Linked DNA regions of Homo sapiens: regions 1 and 3 are each reported to be linked to region 2. Evidence: microRNA targets listed by miRTarBase, many of them from high-throughput screens and not tested one by one. Region 2 holds a microRNA gene; each other region holds the end of a gene's coding sequence.
Evidence for each region. Region 2 holds the annotated microRNA hsa-miR-4309 (CUGGAGUCUAGGAUUCCA, at 3,669-3,686, shown strand). A microRNA usually pairs through its seed, bases 2 to 8, with sites in the 3' UTR of a target mRNA and lowers its output. Matches are read on the target gene's strand: a 7mer-m8 pairs with bases 2 to 8, a 7mer-A1 pairs with bases 2 to 7 and ends in A, and an 8mer does both.

Region 1: miRTarBase lists FSD2 as a target of hsa-miR-4309. Seed matches in the 3' UTR shown: 7mer-m8 at 2,821-2,827.
Region 3: miRTarBase lists POLR3A as a target of hsa-miR-4309. The part of its 3' UTR that is shown has no 7-base or 8-base seed match.

Annotation. Positions count from the first base shown.
Region 1 is chr15:82,755,202-82,760,201 of GRCh38, reverse strand. It overlaps FSD2 (fibronectin type III and SPRY domain containing 2), which reads left to right. Exons shown (of 13, transcript NM_001007122.4): 13 at 602-4,840. The coding sequence ends at 854. It overlaps SNHG21 (small nucleolar RNA host gene 21), which reads right to left. Exons shown (of 3, transcript NR_110098.1): 3 at 2,996-3,298. It also overlaps SCARNA15. Among named protein-coding and RNA genes, the nearest start is that of SNHG21, 7.1 kb to the right of the region's middle.
Region 2 is chr14:102,535,986-102,541,161 of GRCh38, forward strand. It overlaps MIR4309 (microRNA 4309), which reads left to right and starts at 3,659; the gene lies at 3,659-3,741.
Region 3 is chr10:77,973,030-77,978,029 of GRCh38, forward strand. POLR3A (RNA polymerase III subunit A) reads right to left here. Exons shown (of 31, transcript NM_007055.4): 31 at 2,120-4,597. The coding sequence ends at 4,449. Among named protein-coding and RNA genes, the nearest start is that of DLG5-AS1, 49 kb to the left of the region's middle.

The sequences.
Region 1 (5,000 bases), not on the chromosome of region 2:
ATGTTCTATTCCTATGCTAGTTTAGATGAAAGAGAGTTCAGGATGCTATAGGTAAATTTCTTAGGTTAAGAGGTTGCTAGAGAAAAAATGATGTTTGAAAAATGTTTCGGCCAGAAGCAGTGGCTCACACTTGTAATCCCAGCACTTTGGGAGGCCAAGGCAAGTGGACTGCCTGAGCTCAGGAGTTCGAGACCAGCCTGGGCAACACAGTGAAACCCTGTCTCTACTAAAAATACAAAAATTAGCCGGGCTTGGTGGTGCACGCCTGTAATCCCAGCTACTCAGGAGGCTAAGGTGGGAGAATTGCTTGAACCCAGGAGGCTGAGGTTGCAGTGAGCCGAGATTGCACCACTGCACTCCAGCCTGGGTGACAGAGCAAGACTCCATCTAAAAAAAAAAAAGAAAATGTTTCTTAGGACAAATTTTAGAAAAGAGATAGTTTAGAGAGTATAGTTTTAGAAATGGCTTGTCACCTTGGTAGTCATTTAATACTAGAAAATAGCAAAATCATAGGACTATGAATAAAATTAGTATGAAATGTTCTATAAATAGTCAATCTATAGAATTACTGAAACTTTATTATGTCAAATTTAATTTTCAGGCATAAGTATGAATTTCTGCACAACAGAACAACTCCAGATATAAGAATAACAGTTCCACCAAAGAAGATTGGCATTCTATTAGACTATGAACATTCAAAGTTGTCATTTTTCAATGTGGACCTTTCTCAGCATCTATATACATTTAGTTGTCAGCTTCACGAATTTGTGCATCCCTGTTTTTCTTTGGAAAAGCCTGGGTGTCTAAAGGTACATAATGGCATTTCAATGCCAAAACATGTCACTTTCTATTAGAACATTCTGATGTCCAGTTTCCTGTCTTCCATGCCTACCCCTCTCGCAGCTGCTCACGCCTTAGCTGGCTGAACCTGGCACTTAAGCACCATGTGCCCAGCACAATTTATGGCTCATGCTATTATCTGACTGGTGTGCTAGCGCTCATTTCACCCAACCTGGATTCTAGTCCTGTGTGCTGCTACCTGTGTGCTGCTAGGATAGTCATTACCAGGCCCAGCTGTAAAATAAAGGCTCAGACTAAACGAACTCAAAAGTCTTTGAAGCTGTCAAACTATATTCGTGTATATGCAAAATATCTTGAGTTTCCAAGACCTAGAGAGCTTGGGAGAGGACGAGGGTAGTCTTAATGGCTCCAGCAGCACCAGTACACCCATGCATTTCATGAGTCAGCCAAGAATACACTTGAGAAGGCGAGAGGCTGTCTGTAGAGAACCAGGGAAGCTGTGTGCCCTTCTCAATGTCTTCTACCCTCGTTTTCCCAATAGTGAGCAGCACTGTGGTGAGGTCCCTTCCACTGTGTACTCTGCATACAGGGTATTCCCTGTTCCACTCCTACACAGTATGCACCACTCTCTAATTTTGAAATTACCTCTATAATGCCTAATTCCATGAAGGGAGGGACAGTGCCTGTTTTGTTCATTGCTAGATCACCAAGGGCTAACACATAACAGCTGTCACCAAGTATTTGTTGAATAAATTAGTATCTTCTTCAGCCACTGCTCTTTGGCCTCTTACTGCTCTCCATGTGAAGGATGGCAGGGCTCTTTCAAAACTACAGCAAAGGACCTATGGCCAAGAAATGGGAAAAAACCTAGAATGGAGGCAGCGTGAAAGAACAGAAGGGCATCTGTGGCATATTAGCAAATGCACAACAATTTTTTAAAAGAAATTAACAGCCCACCAAAGGGCAAAGCTGAGCACGGGAAGGAAGACTGATCTCTAGCTAGGCAGCTTTCAGGCATCCTGCCTCACTGCCCCCAGGCCATTCTGTGAGCTCAATGCCCAACTCCATCAGCTACATTCCTGGTTCTCCTGTTCAAGTTTCCAGTTGCCACTTAAGCTCTGCACACACAGCATTTTCAAAGCTTGTGAGTGAAGCTGCAGAATAATTCCATTTGTGAAGCAATTACAATTCAGTATCATGTCCCACAGATGCCTCTAAACCCAGATATGCCCTAATCTCATCATTTAAGGTTTTGTGTTTAAAAAAAAAAAGTCCACTTTTCTTTTTTCTGGCGAAACCCCGTCTCTACTAAAAATACAAAAAATTAGCCGGGCATGGTGGTGGGCGCCTGTAATCCCAGCTACTCAGGAGGCTGAGGCAGGAGAATTGCTTGAACCCGGGGGCAGAGGCTGCAGTGAGCCGAGATTGTGCCACTGCACTCCAGCCTTGGCAACAAGAGCGCAACTCTGTCTCAAAAACAAACAAACAAACAAACAAAAAACCTCTGATGTTTTCCAGCACCTGCAAAGTCTGACAAACTGAAAGACTCTCATCTCCTACTAAACTCTGCCTACTCGTATAAATGGCAGCTCAGATTCCTGAATTAACAATTCACACTGACAATTTAATAACTCGTTATACACACACACACCTATCCTGCCAAGCTGGACTGTCTACTCTGAAACAAGGGACAGCAGATGTAAGCACAGAAATAGTTCCAGTTATAAACAATTAAAAGATACATATCATGTATATTTAAAAATGTTCTCGGCCGGGCGCGGTGGCTCACGCCTGTAATCCCAGCACTTTGGGGGGCCAAGGTGGATGGATCACAAGGTCAGGAGATCGAGACCATCCTGGCTAATACGGTGAAACCCCGTCTCTACTAAAAATACAAAAAAATTAGCCGGGACTGGTGGCGGGCGCCTGTAGTCCCAGCTACTCGGGAGGCTGAGGCAGGAGAATGGCGTGAACCCGGGAGGTGGAGCTTGCAGTGAGCCGAGATGGCTCACAGATCAAGACTCCATCTCAAAAAAAAAAAAAAAAAAAGTTCTCAGCTACTGAAATAGAAACTACCAAGTAAGAAACAGGATATCACAGAGAAGGCAAGTTTGAATTCAGGGTTCTAATAGGCTTTATGGAATACTACACGTTAGTATGAACACGGATAAATGGATTAAAAACTCAACACGTATAAAGTTTTAATTAAATTTTTATTTGACCAAGAAAAAACTGTCTAGAATTGCCTGACATTTAAAATCCACTTAAAGCAGATTAGCAACTTCAAGCATCACAATTATTCAGCATAAAGAGCCTTTGTTGAAACATCTTTCTCATTTATTTAGAAGAAAACATCTAGAACAGAACCAAGCAAAACTTTTGTATTTTTGTAAAAAATCTCAATTCCTGAAACTACTATAAACAATCTACTGAAACTGTATTCAGCAAGGGACAGATTTACCTCAAGGCCATGTTCACCTGCAACCTGCTGATAAGTCTGTTAAAAAACAAAGCAAAAAAAAGAGTTTTTAAAAATTAGACCACTGTAGCCACAATCCCTAACACTGGACAGTTAAAACAAAAGTTATCAAAATCTGTTCTTTTCTTAGCTTTACCTGTATCACTTTATAACTCCTGAGAAAGTCATTCACATAAGCTGTGGCCTCCCCACCTTAACAAAGGGGAAAAAGAATATGTAAAACCACCACAGAATCTTGGCGTAAACTAACATGGGTTTAGTAATACAGAGTACAGTATTCAGGATTTAAGGCACCCTTACAAGTCAGAATTGGAAAGTTGGTTTGAGACTTGCAATCTAAAATGACACTGATTTCTGATAAAATTAAATGACTTTTATTTAGAAAAGTGTGTTTAATAAATTACTTCCTGCTGGTTCAAATGACACACAATCACTTTGTATACATCCAATAAGATATTTCTGAAGTGTATACTTGGTCAAAAGTAAAAAGCAGAGCAAATGCATGGACAGTGGGGCCTTCTTCTTAATACTTCTCATCCTCCAAAATCTGTTAAAATCATCATCTTCCACAACTCACACACTGGAAGCTGTCCACAGCACAATTCACTGTGATGTGGCATTCTGTAAATAAGACTACATTGGTCTTGATGCAAGGCGGTTCAGCTACCAGACTGCACTATAAGAAAAGTCCTCTCCTCAACTTACCAAGAAAACTTCGCCAATTTCTAGTCACCTTCCTATCAATTAGTAGAGCAAGATTCTCACATGTTCACTATGTCTTTCTCCAGTTTTCTCATCTATAAGTGTACTACTCCTATTTTCTATAGGAAGACAATGGAAAGCGTGTAATTGCTGTTGGTAGATAAGTAGGTCTTGAATTTATTTTGCAAACAAGACCTGTTCTATCTACCTTTTCATTTAGGAGGCTAAAAGCAGAGTCAGCTTGATTTCAAGGACTCTATTTTCTTAGTCTCCAGAAGAACATAACCAAATCCAGCTTTTAAAACACTGTCCTTTAACAAGTCAAGATACTCAAATAAAGATCATGTATAACTTCAAGCTATAGGAGATTAACTCTGTACATATGCTTGTTTCACTGTAACCAATGGTTAATTAATCTAAATGCAAGAGAAAAGTTATTTGGAAAGAAGACCCCAGCTGGTCAGCATCTTTTCTGTCATCAGGAAGTCTCCTGGAAGGAGTATGACTATGACCTGGGCACAACAACTGCCCCTAAGTTAGTACTTATTTTAGAGTTGCTACTGAACAGGTGGTGGTTCTTGTCAAGTATATCATGTCTGACTACTTTACTGCTTGTTTTCTGCTATCACCAGTTCCAGAAAAAAAAAAAAAAAAAATTAAGCCCAACTCACTAATTGATTGCTTTTTCATTTTCCCAGACTGTGACAGAATCATGGTTTTTAGCTCTATTTTCACCTTACTCAAATCCTGGAGGAATTAAACTATCATTTATTTGAAATGTTACAAATTAGCCTGCAGTTGATTCAAACAACATGTAGTCACTCAGACATAGCAAATAAAAATGTTTTGGTATATGAACTTGGATTCTAATCTTGCTGTCTCTACTACTCTCATTCCTAAGTATAAATGTTAGGTCTCTTGCTTGAAAGGAATTTAAGAGATGCCCTTAAATTCAAACAGACTGGCTCGCAGAAAGGAATATAATCCATTCACTGGGAAAGTACACAGCCAACAAAAC
Region 2 (5,176 bases):
AAATTCCCTGGCAGCCAGGCCCTGGGAGCACCCCTCCCCTCCTGTGCCCTTGACACCTACCTCAGTGAGGCAGCCCCAGCAGCCGGGCAGTGGGCGGCAGAGAAGGGTGTCCTGGGACAGAGGTTTTCCTAGTCTTTCTTCAGAATGGAGGAAGCCCCTGGGGTGCCTGGACTTCCTGTAGGACCCAGGGAAGAAAGATGGCCATTCTCCCTGTCGCGTGATGGGGGCTCCAGCTGTTTTACACAAGAAGACATATAACTTTCATGGTTAAGAGCAGGGGTTCTGGGCCTGATGGCTTGGGTTCGAATCCCGGCTCCTATGCATGCCAGCTGTGTTACATACTTCTAGACAAATTACATAACTTCTCTGTGCCTCACTTTCCTCCACTGCAAAACGAGGAGTCCTGAGCAGGTGAGATCCCCTGACAGCTCTCGGGACAGCTGGAGTGCTCAGTGAAAGCTCTTCGTGCAATCACTGCGGAGGGTGACCAGGGACATCGATAGGACGCTGGAGGGATTACCCTATGTCCCCCGACCCGCCCGACTACAACAGCCTTGCAGATAAGCCACGAGCCTGCCTGCTCCTCCTCGTGAGTTGGAGACAGGAGAGGGAGCAGAGTTCAGGGGCTTGTTTCTTTCTTTCTTTTTTTTTTGAGATGGAGTTTCGATTCTGTTGCCCAGGCTGGAGTGCAGTGGCGCAATCTCGGCTCACTGCAACCTCTGCCTCCCAGGTTCAAGTGATTCTCCTGCCTCAGCCTCCTGAGTAGCTGGGATTACAGGCCTGCGCCACCATGCCTGGCTAATTTTTGTATTTTTAGTAGAGACAGGGGTTTCACCATGTCGCCCAGGCTGGTCTCGAACTCCTGACCTTGTGATCTGCCCGCCTTGGCCTCCCAAAGTGCTGGGATTACAGGCGTGAGCCACGGTGCCTGGCCAGGACCCTCCATTTCTTTTTTTTTTTTTTTTTTTTTTTTTTGAGATGGAGTCTCGCTCTGTCACCCAGGCTGGAGTGCAGTGGTGCGATCTCAGCTCACTGCAAGCTCCGCCTCCCGGGTTCATGCCATTCTCCTGCCTCAGCCTCTCGAGTAGCTAGGACTACAGTCGCCTGCCACCACACCTGGCTAATTTTCTGTATTTTTAGTAGAGACTGGGTTTCACCGTATTAGCCAGGATGTTCTTGATTTCCTGATCGCGTGATCCTCCCGCCTCGGCCTCCCAAAGTGCTGGGATTACAGGTGTGAGCCACTGCGCCCGGCTGGACCCTCCATTTCTAATAAGCTCCTGGGAGAGTCCTCCCTGGTGCTCTGAGGGTGACTGACCGGCAAGGCACTTCTGGGGCCCCTAAGCCCTCCAACCTCAGCTGCTGTGGAGAGCTGACCCCCAGGGGAGTACGTCAGGGTGCTGGGTGGGGCACCAGTTTCAAGGATGCCCAACACAGCCCTCCCCTTGGGGCTGCAAGGCCCTGGGACCAGCGGCCCAGCCCTGTCCCCAGGCAGGTCCTCAGACCTAGGACCACAGGGGGGTCTGGGGCCCAGGCCAAGGGCAAACCTGCTGGGATCTGAGCCCCTCTTGGTGGCTTCCTGGTGTGTGCACATCCTTCCCCAGGCAGGAGAGGAAGCAGGGCCAGCTCCTTCTCCTCCCAGGGCAAGACCTGAAGTCTCTGTTTGTGTGTCTGTCAGACTTGCTGTGAGGGCCACAGTGTCTCCACTGAGGCCTTATCCAGCCTCCAGGAGGTCCCATTTTTCAGGGAAAGGGCCTGCTGCTGAAGGCTGTCACTCATCTGACTTCAAATCCCAGCTCTGCCACTTCCAGGCTGTGTGACTCCAGGCAAGTTGCTTAACCTCTCTGTGCCCACTACTTCTGTAAATGGGGATATCATGGGATTCTCGTGAGCTGTGAATAGCATCTGTTGATGTGTTTGTTTCTGTGCATTCAGACTTTCCCTCTTTCCTCAGGCACTTGCCGGGCAGCCTTCTGTGCCACATCCCTGACCCTGCCCCAGGGCACACCAGCTTCAGTGACAGGGATGGCTGGTGAACAGGAGGCCCAGGCCTGCTGCTCTGGCCGATGTAAATCCAAGGAGCTGTGATGACGCGGGAGAGGGGCGGTTTGGGAAAAAATGTGTGAAGGATGCCCCCGTGGGAGCAGGAGCCCCACTGGCAGGGGCAGGCCGGGGGTAACTCAGCCACAGGGAAGGGGCCCAGCCGGGGCTGGAGGGAGGGCCACCTGCAGAAATGAGCTGTGGGGGGGCGAGAAGGGCAGGCAGCTGGGGCTGAGGAAGACCAGCCCCCAAGACACCCATGGAGAAACTGAGGCAGAATCTGTACTTGGAGCCAGCCACCGCTCTCCACTGGCCCACACTGCTGTGATCCTTCCCACGCTGCGCGGCTGGCTGGAACCCAAACCCCCCACAGCGGGCCTGGCCTTCAGAGCTGGTTCCAGATGTTTAAATACCCAGCCTTCACCTCCCGTCACAGACACTTCCACTGGAAGGTGTTGGTGCCACATCCCCAGTGCTGCCAGGCTAATATGGGGTGGGGGCCTTGCAGCCCCAAGGGGAGGGCTGTGTTGAGCGTTCTGGACACTGGTGCCCCACCCAGCACCCAGCAGGGGCACTCTGCGCTGTGCTGCCCCTCCCCAGCTGCCTGGGCCACCAGTTCAGGAGAGCTCACCCCTTTGCAACCTTTCCCAACTCAATGCCACGCCAGGAAGTCAGGAGGGGGATGACCCTGCCACACTCTGCCCCCCAGCTCCCTTCCCACCATGCCCCGGGACCAAGACAGGAGGGCCAGCTGGGCCCAGGGCACTTCGCCAGTATCATCGGGTCCTCACCACAGCCCTCAAGGGGGTGTTCCTGTTCCACACACAGAAGACTGAGGCCCAGGGATGGGACTGGGTCGTGTGAAACGCCAGGCCATGCCCGGCCCCGCAGAGTCCTGCGTAGCTGCCCGGCCGGCCCAGGGCTCAGATCCCCTCCTCCAGGCCTGGCCCCAGCTGCTATTGGGGCCCACTGAGGCCTACTGGATCCTAACTGGATGCAATTAGGACATCACCTGATGCCCCTGTCAGGGTGGCTCCTCCCAACCGCTAGAGGACTCAGGCCAAAGGCATTTGGGGTGCAGCCCCCACCCTGGCCCTGGTGGGCCGGAGTCATGCTCTATGTGCCCCCCAGCTGTCCAAGCAGGGGTGTACAGAGACTCTGGGGTGGGGTGAGGGTGAGAGCCTGAGAAGGCTGTTGCGGAGGACACACCGGAAACTGTCACCAGGCCCTGCCCTCAGCCGACCCGGGCCAGGGCCAGGAGGGCCTCCTGGGGGCCGCCATCTTTCTGTTCTGGGAAGGCCAGGCTGGGGGTGAGCTCCATGGGGCTCCTGTGTCCTCATCCATTGGTGGGATGCGGCTCCCTCCCGGGGACCTCTCAGGGCACTGATAAGAGCCACCAGGACTAGGTTCAGCCCACAGCAGGTGGGATGCACCCGCCCCTTGGCGGGCCGGGGGTGGAGACCGGGAGTTTCTGGAGAAGGCCTTTCAGATTCTGAAGGCAGGCACTCCATGCCCCATCCCTGGAGCGCGAGTGACAAGTGTCTTTGTCACAGAAGGACAGAAAGGCCCTACGTGGCCCCTGAGCAGCTCTGGGGAACATTCTTGGTCCGGGTTCCTGTCTGGGGGTTCTGGAGTCTAGGATTCCAGGATCTGGGTTTTGAGGTCTTGGGTTGTAGGGTCTGCGGTTTGAAGCCCCTCTTGTAACCCAGGACAGAGGTGAAAGCAGTGGGGTGGACTGGGCAGCCCCCAAAGTTCAATGGACCTAAAGTGCTGGTGCTCAGCCCTGCCCAGGCAGCTGGCAGGTGGTCCAGAAACCCCTCGTTCTATGGAGACTGAGGCCCAAGTCTTTGGAGGTGGTCAGGGGTCTGTCCCAGAGCACCTTTGGGCGAAAGGTAGGGGGAAGACCACCCAAGACGACCCTCCCCAACACCAGCAAGGGAGCCCAGCATCTCCTCTGAGGCCACTGCCCTGTGGGTCCAGCCTCTCTGGGCTGGGTGTGTGGAGGCCGCTCCTATGGCGGTGTGGGCGGTGCAGCTCATTCCCCCGGGGCTCCCAGCCTCCCACCCCCATCCGGCCTCCTCCTCCAGAGCCTGGGGACTGGTGGATGCCTGCCAAGAACGCCCACAGCCTGCCAGGATGCGCAGGAAGCACACACACGCCTAATCCCACCCCCATTGTCATAGATCCCTCTTGATTCTGGGCCTGTCTTTCTGGGGGAAACTGAGGCCCAGAGGGATTGAGGGCCCCCAAGGTCCCCGAGTCTCCAGGTGTACCTTGGAGGCTGTGCTTTAGTGGGGCCTCCCCCGGCCTTCTTTGCAGTCCTGAGTGTGTGAAGGGGAGGAATCGGGGGCTGCCAGGCCAGGAGCCAAGGCCGGGGGTGGGGAGCAGCTGGCAGGTGTCCCGGCAGGAGGCCCGGCTAGGGGAGACCAGAACTCCTCTGCTCCTCCCTCCCAACGGCTTCCCACCCCACTCTACAGCAGGCCGCTGGCAGGCCCGGAAGGGCTTGGGAGCCGGAGGGTGCTTGCCGGGGCTCCTGAAGGCCTGAGGAGCTCCTGAGGGACTGGAGGCTTCGGGCCTGGAAGGCTGGAAGGCACTGGCCCTGCAGCTTGGTTCCCGGGGCTCCACGTGTCTGAATGCAAAACAAAGGCGGCTCACAATGAGAAGGCGGGTGCTGGGGATCTGCCCCCGTCGTGCATGTGTCACCACACGGTGTCGAAGCGGACACCTGCCTCCGGGATGAGCGCATTGGGCAACACTGCATGCTTTGCATTGGGAACATGTTTGTGTGTGTGCGTTGGGGGTGTGTGTGCGGTGGGGGGCTATGGGCTGGGATGTCCCTTGAGGTGATCAGCTCTCTACGTTCCGCACACACAAACACACAGTGTGACTGAGACACACATGTGAGTATTGAGATCTCCAGGGCTGACTTCCTGCCGGAAGCATGCCCTGGCCCCCGTCACCTTGTGTGAAATTCCTCCACCTGAGCACCTTCCCGGTAGAGCCACGCGTTGCCTGTGATGGAGGGGCCATGACTAACCCAGGCACTAGGCCTGGAGGCTGGGCTGGCTGCGCTGTACAGTTGCAAGGACCTGCCAGACAGCTCTGTGGACAGAGCCTCCGTCGGGGTTTCACCACG
Region 3 (5,000 bases), not on the chromosome of region 2:
GGCCACATCCATCCCCTTCCCGAACCCTTCTCCCCCCCCATGTAAAATACTTCCCACGACCTACTGATTGAGCAGACAGCTGGGTAGTCATTATGTCTAGGGAGGCTGGATCCCAAGTCCACCAAGCTCCACTTAGGGTCAAATAAAGAGAGCCAGGGGATTGGTTTTTAGTTGTGAATTCACAGACCATGTTTTTCAGTAAAAAAAAAAGTCACTGTATTAATAATTGCAAACATTTAATGTGTATTATGTGCCAGGCACTGTACTAAGACCTTTTTATGTGTAATCACGTTTAAAACTCACAATGACCCAATGAGTCAAACACTACTAAACAGTATTCCTAGCTTATAAATGAGTAAAGTGAGGCAAGGAGAGGTTAAGTAATTTGTTCATGTGCACCAGATGGAAAGGGAGAATTGACGCTGGGCATGGCGGCTCACGCCTGTAATCCCAGCACTTTGAGAGGATTGCTTGAGCCCAGGTGTTCGAGACCAGCTGGGCAACATATAGCAAGACCTGTCTCTATTTAAAATAAAAAAAAAAATTATAAAAATAAAAAAAAGAAAGGGGGAGTTGGGATTTAAATCCTGACACTGATTGTAGAACTCAGGCTCTTAACAAGATGACCCTGACCAGATGGTAAGCTCCATTCATGCAGGGACCTTCCCCAAGGGCCTAGTGCACTGCCTGGCACAGAGCAGAAGTGTAGCAAATATTAATGGATTCAAATGTTCACACGCTAACACTGCCAGTAGGTTGAGGAAAGGATGGTGGCAACGTTTCCCAGTGACTGCAGGCTTGTGTCCTCGCTCAGGGCACACTCCCCAGAATCCAAGCCTAAGGTAAGGAGGCCAAATTAGTGTCATGAGAGGCCCTGTGGGAGGGGTTGGAACCAGAGGGCTGCAGCCACAGAAGGACCTTTCTTTACCCTGGTGGGCCTGATGTGCCCACGGGAGCACAATCCCTTGATCTGCAGCTTCCACCCCAGAGTGTGCTGGACACACTTCTGCACACTGAACCTGAGCCTTTTTGCTTCACCCGCTTCTGTGGAATTCCTTTTAGATGTATTAACATCTTTTTTTTTTTTTTTTTTTTTTTTTCTGAGATGGAGTCTCGCTCTGTCTCCCAGGCTGGAGTGCAATGGTGTGATCTCGGCTCACTGCAACCTCTGTCTCCTTGGTTCAAGCAATTCTCCTACCTCAGCCTCCCCAGTAGCTGGGATTACAGGCACGTGCCACCACACCCAGCTAATTTTTCTATTTTTAGTAGAGACGGGGTTTCACCATGTTGGCCAGGCTGGTCTCCAACTCCTGACCTCAGGTGATCCACTCGCCTCGGCCTCCCAAAGTGCTGGAATTACAGGCGTGAACCACCGTGCCTGGCCAGATGTATTAACATCTGATTCACCTATTGTGTTTACTGCTGCACCCCTAATACCTAGAACAGTGCCTTGGAAGTAGCAAGCCTTAAATCTTTGTTGAATGAATAAAAGTTAAGCTATGCACCTGATCCTGGCCAGACGGCCCTTCAGACTCCAGACTTGAGTCCTTTCAGCGCCTCCTACTGGGACTGGATTAGCTGCATCTCAGAGGGCACTTTATTTCCTACATTTCTAAGTCACAGGGGTGGGGGTAACTGGGGCATTCACTGTTGACCTCCAGCACCCGAAGAGGTGAGCTCCTGACGGGGGTTGGTTCTCATTCTAGGAGTTAGAACTCATACAAGGCCAACGTCCTTTTTCACAACCCATAAGGATGATTCTGCTATAGTTTTAGGTAACGCAAATATTTCCTCTCTTGGGTTTTGGCTGAAAAATAAAGAGGTCTGCCAACAGACAGCAAAAATCAAGAAAAGTAAACATACAATGCCAGGTTCAATCAGACATGAATCAATGGGAATACACATGGATAAACCCTGAAATAGAAACACGGCACCATAGTTTAACTGACACATATATATACTGAAGGACTCCAGAATGTCTCTCCCACCCCTAAAGTGCTGAACACTGCAGGGAGCTGTAACTGAGTCAGGAGCTATTTTAATCTCCCTTGTAAAAAAGACGTAAAAATGGCAAAGAACTGGACAGAATGCTAGTCAAGAATTTGTAACTATTCATGGATGAGATGGAATTCACACGTATTTTTATTTCTTCCAAGCAGGTACAGAGACTCAAATGTAACCCTTTGAGCTCTCATGCTTGAGGATGTGCTGCTACCTGGCCTTTGAGCTCTGTGCTGGCATAAAGCCCAAGGCCTGGGCAGGGCAGATGATCAAAGTAGGGAGAATTTTAACACCAGTCATGGGACACAGTGGGGAGCACAAACAGTAGGGTTTACCAGGCAATGCTGTTGATGTTGATAGTCCTAGCAAGGCTGGCAGTTCCAGGAGGAGGACCAGCACCTCCAGGACGTATGACTTCCCCCCCTACCCATGGGTGATGTGATCCTTCACATAACCATTCTGCTCCAAGGTCTGCCTTGTTCTCAAGTGCTATACGCTGATTCGCACCCATCACAATCACACACGTCTCACACAGACTCCAGACCCTGCAGCGCCCAACTGAGTACTCACTCACGCAAGGTGAGGCTCCTTGGCGGTGCCATCTTTATTATTCCCAGCCACAAGTTATAGCCACAACCTCTCTTCCATTTAAAGTGTGCGTCACCCGCAGAAGACAACAGGTGCCGGAGTTCACTCCTATGATTCAATTCTACCCTCCCCTGGCCTTTGCACGGATCCCAGTGGTCCTGGCTCGGATCAGGCCTACAGCTTACTTCCCAGGCATGCTTCCAGGAAGGCAGTTGGGGTGGGGGGTACCCCTTTATGGCTCTTCCCAGGTTACATGAGAACTGGTGATCTCGGTGGGGTCTCAAGTAGAAGCCCTGAATTAGTGTTCATTAACAAACTTAATCCTTTGTCCTAAACCAGGCTCTAGCTCAATTCAAAGATAAAGGGGGGTTAAACATTAAGAAAAATGGCATTTTTTTTCCACATCACTGATACCCCAAGAGAAGTTAATAGGTCTACCTTGTAGATGCAGGGAAATCAAAAGGTCAAACTATAATTTTTTATAAAAACTAATTTTTTTTTACGCTTAATTTTTTTCTTTTTTTTTTTTGAGACAAGGTCTTGCTTTGTTGCCCAGGCTGGAGTGTAGTGGCACGATCTTGGCTCACTACAACCTCCACCTCCCAGGCTCAAGTGAACCTTCCACCTCAGCCTTACCAATAGCAGGTACTACAGGCATGGGCCACCATGCCTGGCTAATTTTTGTATTCTCTGTAGAGACGGGGTTTCGTCATGTTGCCCAGGCTGCTCTCGAACTCCTGGGCTCAAGTGATCTGCCCCCCTCGGCCTCCCAAAGTGCTGGGATTATAGGTATGAGCCACAGCACCCAGCCCAAACTACAAATTTTAATAGAATTTTAAACCCAACCACTGGCCAAAAATCACTCGGTCACGAATTCCTAATCCACAATCACATCAGTAGGAAGGGAAAGCACTCATTCTAACACAGATCCAAGAACCAATGGCTACCCCGGGTACCTTAACAGCATCAACTCAGAACTTAAAAAATCAACTAGAGATCATCCAAGGAACGTAAGTATAATTCTACAAAAAACCATCTCATCCCCATTGCAGCAGGCCCCAAACTCCAGTGAGGCTTCCATAGGCCATGGAGAATGGGTTTGGCTCTTGTCACAGGGTAGAGCCCCATGATAGGGGTCTGAGGTAGATGAAAACAACAGGGTAGCCAGGGGCATCTATAGAAGATGTTACAGAGCTGCCTGGGCCTCATGACAGTTGCACCTCAGTTACAAATCCCAGACGGCTCTATTTGCTTAAACCAGTTTTTCCAGTGACGCTTACATGCTGACTTTCTTGGTTTCTATAGATGCTTGGTTTCAAAAATAAAACTAAAATAACAAAAATTCCAAATCCCTCAAATGGAACAAATAAATAATAGTAACAATATTTACATAAGTATGTCACATTGAGAGATTCCAGCATGACCAAGGAATGGAAAATCCAAGAATGTGCCCTGGCCTGTGTGGGGCTCAGGCCTGGCTCATCGTCAGGTGTGAAGACACCATGGGGAGCCGATGGATGTATGCAGTGAGCTGGGATGGACCATGACACCTGGCTGGGCTTTAAGTCCAGGGAAGCAGTGTGTGCACGAGCTGTGGGGCCGTCTATAGATTAGGTTTCAAGCAAGCAAACAATAAAACCCTCAGCTCTCCCGAGCAGCGTGGCACAGTCAGGGTCACTGGTGTGAGCTGCACCCTATCAGAGGAGAAGCTGCTCCTGGGGATGCCAAGAGGGCTTCTCTGATTGCTGGCATAGGTGGGGACCTCAGGACCCCCGTCCCAGGGAGCACAAAACTCTTTATACATCAGCTGGAGACAGGACAAGGAGTCAAGGTCAGGCATGGTCCCCTCTTTCTTTGGACTATGTGACAAGGGGGATGTGGAATTCATTTGTGTCGAAGATCAGGGGCCTCTTGGGAGGGTTCGGGTCCCTGTCAGCCTTGTGAAGCAGCTTGAAGAGCCCGGTTCCAATGTTCATTGGGATTCCCATGATGATGCACTCAGACACCCCTGAAACCAACCAGAATGAACATCAGAGAGCCTCTAAACACAAGGTACATTTTCACGAAGAAAGACTATTGGCTTAAGTGTCAGAAAATTAGGATGTGAGTCCCAGCGCCACTCCACATCAACTGAACTTTGGCAAATCCCTTTCCTTCCCATCTAAAAAGGGTGGCTGTGGAGTGCAGACAGGGGGATTCTGCACTTTCAGGGAAGGGCAGGGCTTGCTCACAGCCCAGGAGCTTGTTGGAGACAGAGTCAGCTCCTCCAGTTCTCCTCTCCCACCTGAGCCAAAGGCACCCTGGGAGGGCCCTGCCTTTGAGAACACAACTTAGCAAGAATACTGAAGGATGCTTAGGAAACTCTAAGTTTGCCACCCAGTGCTTCCTTAACTTAGAGCCTCCAAGAAAAG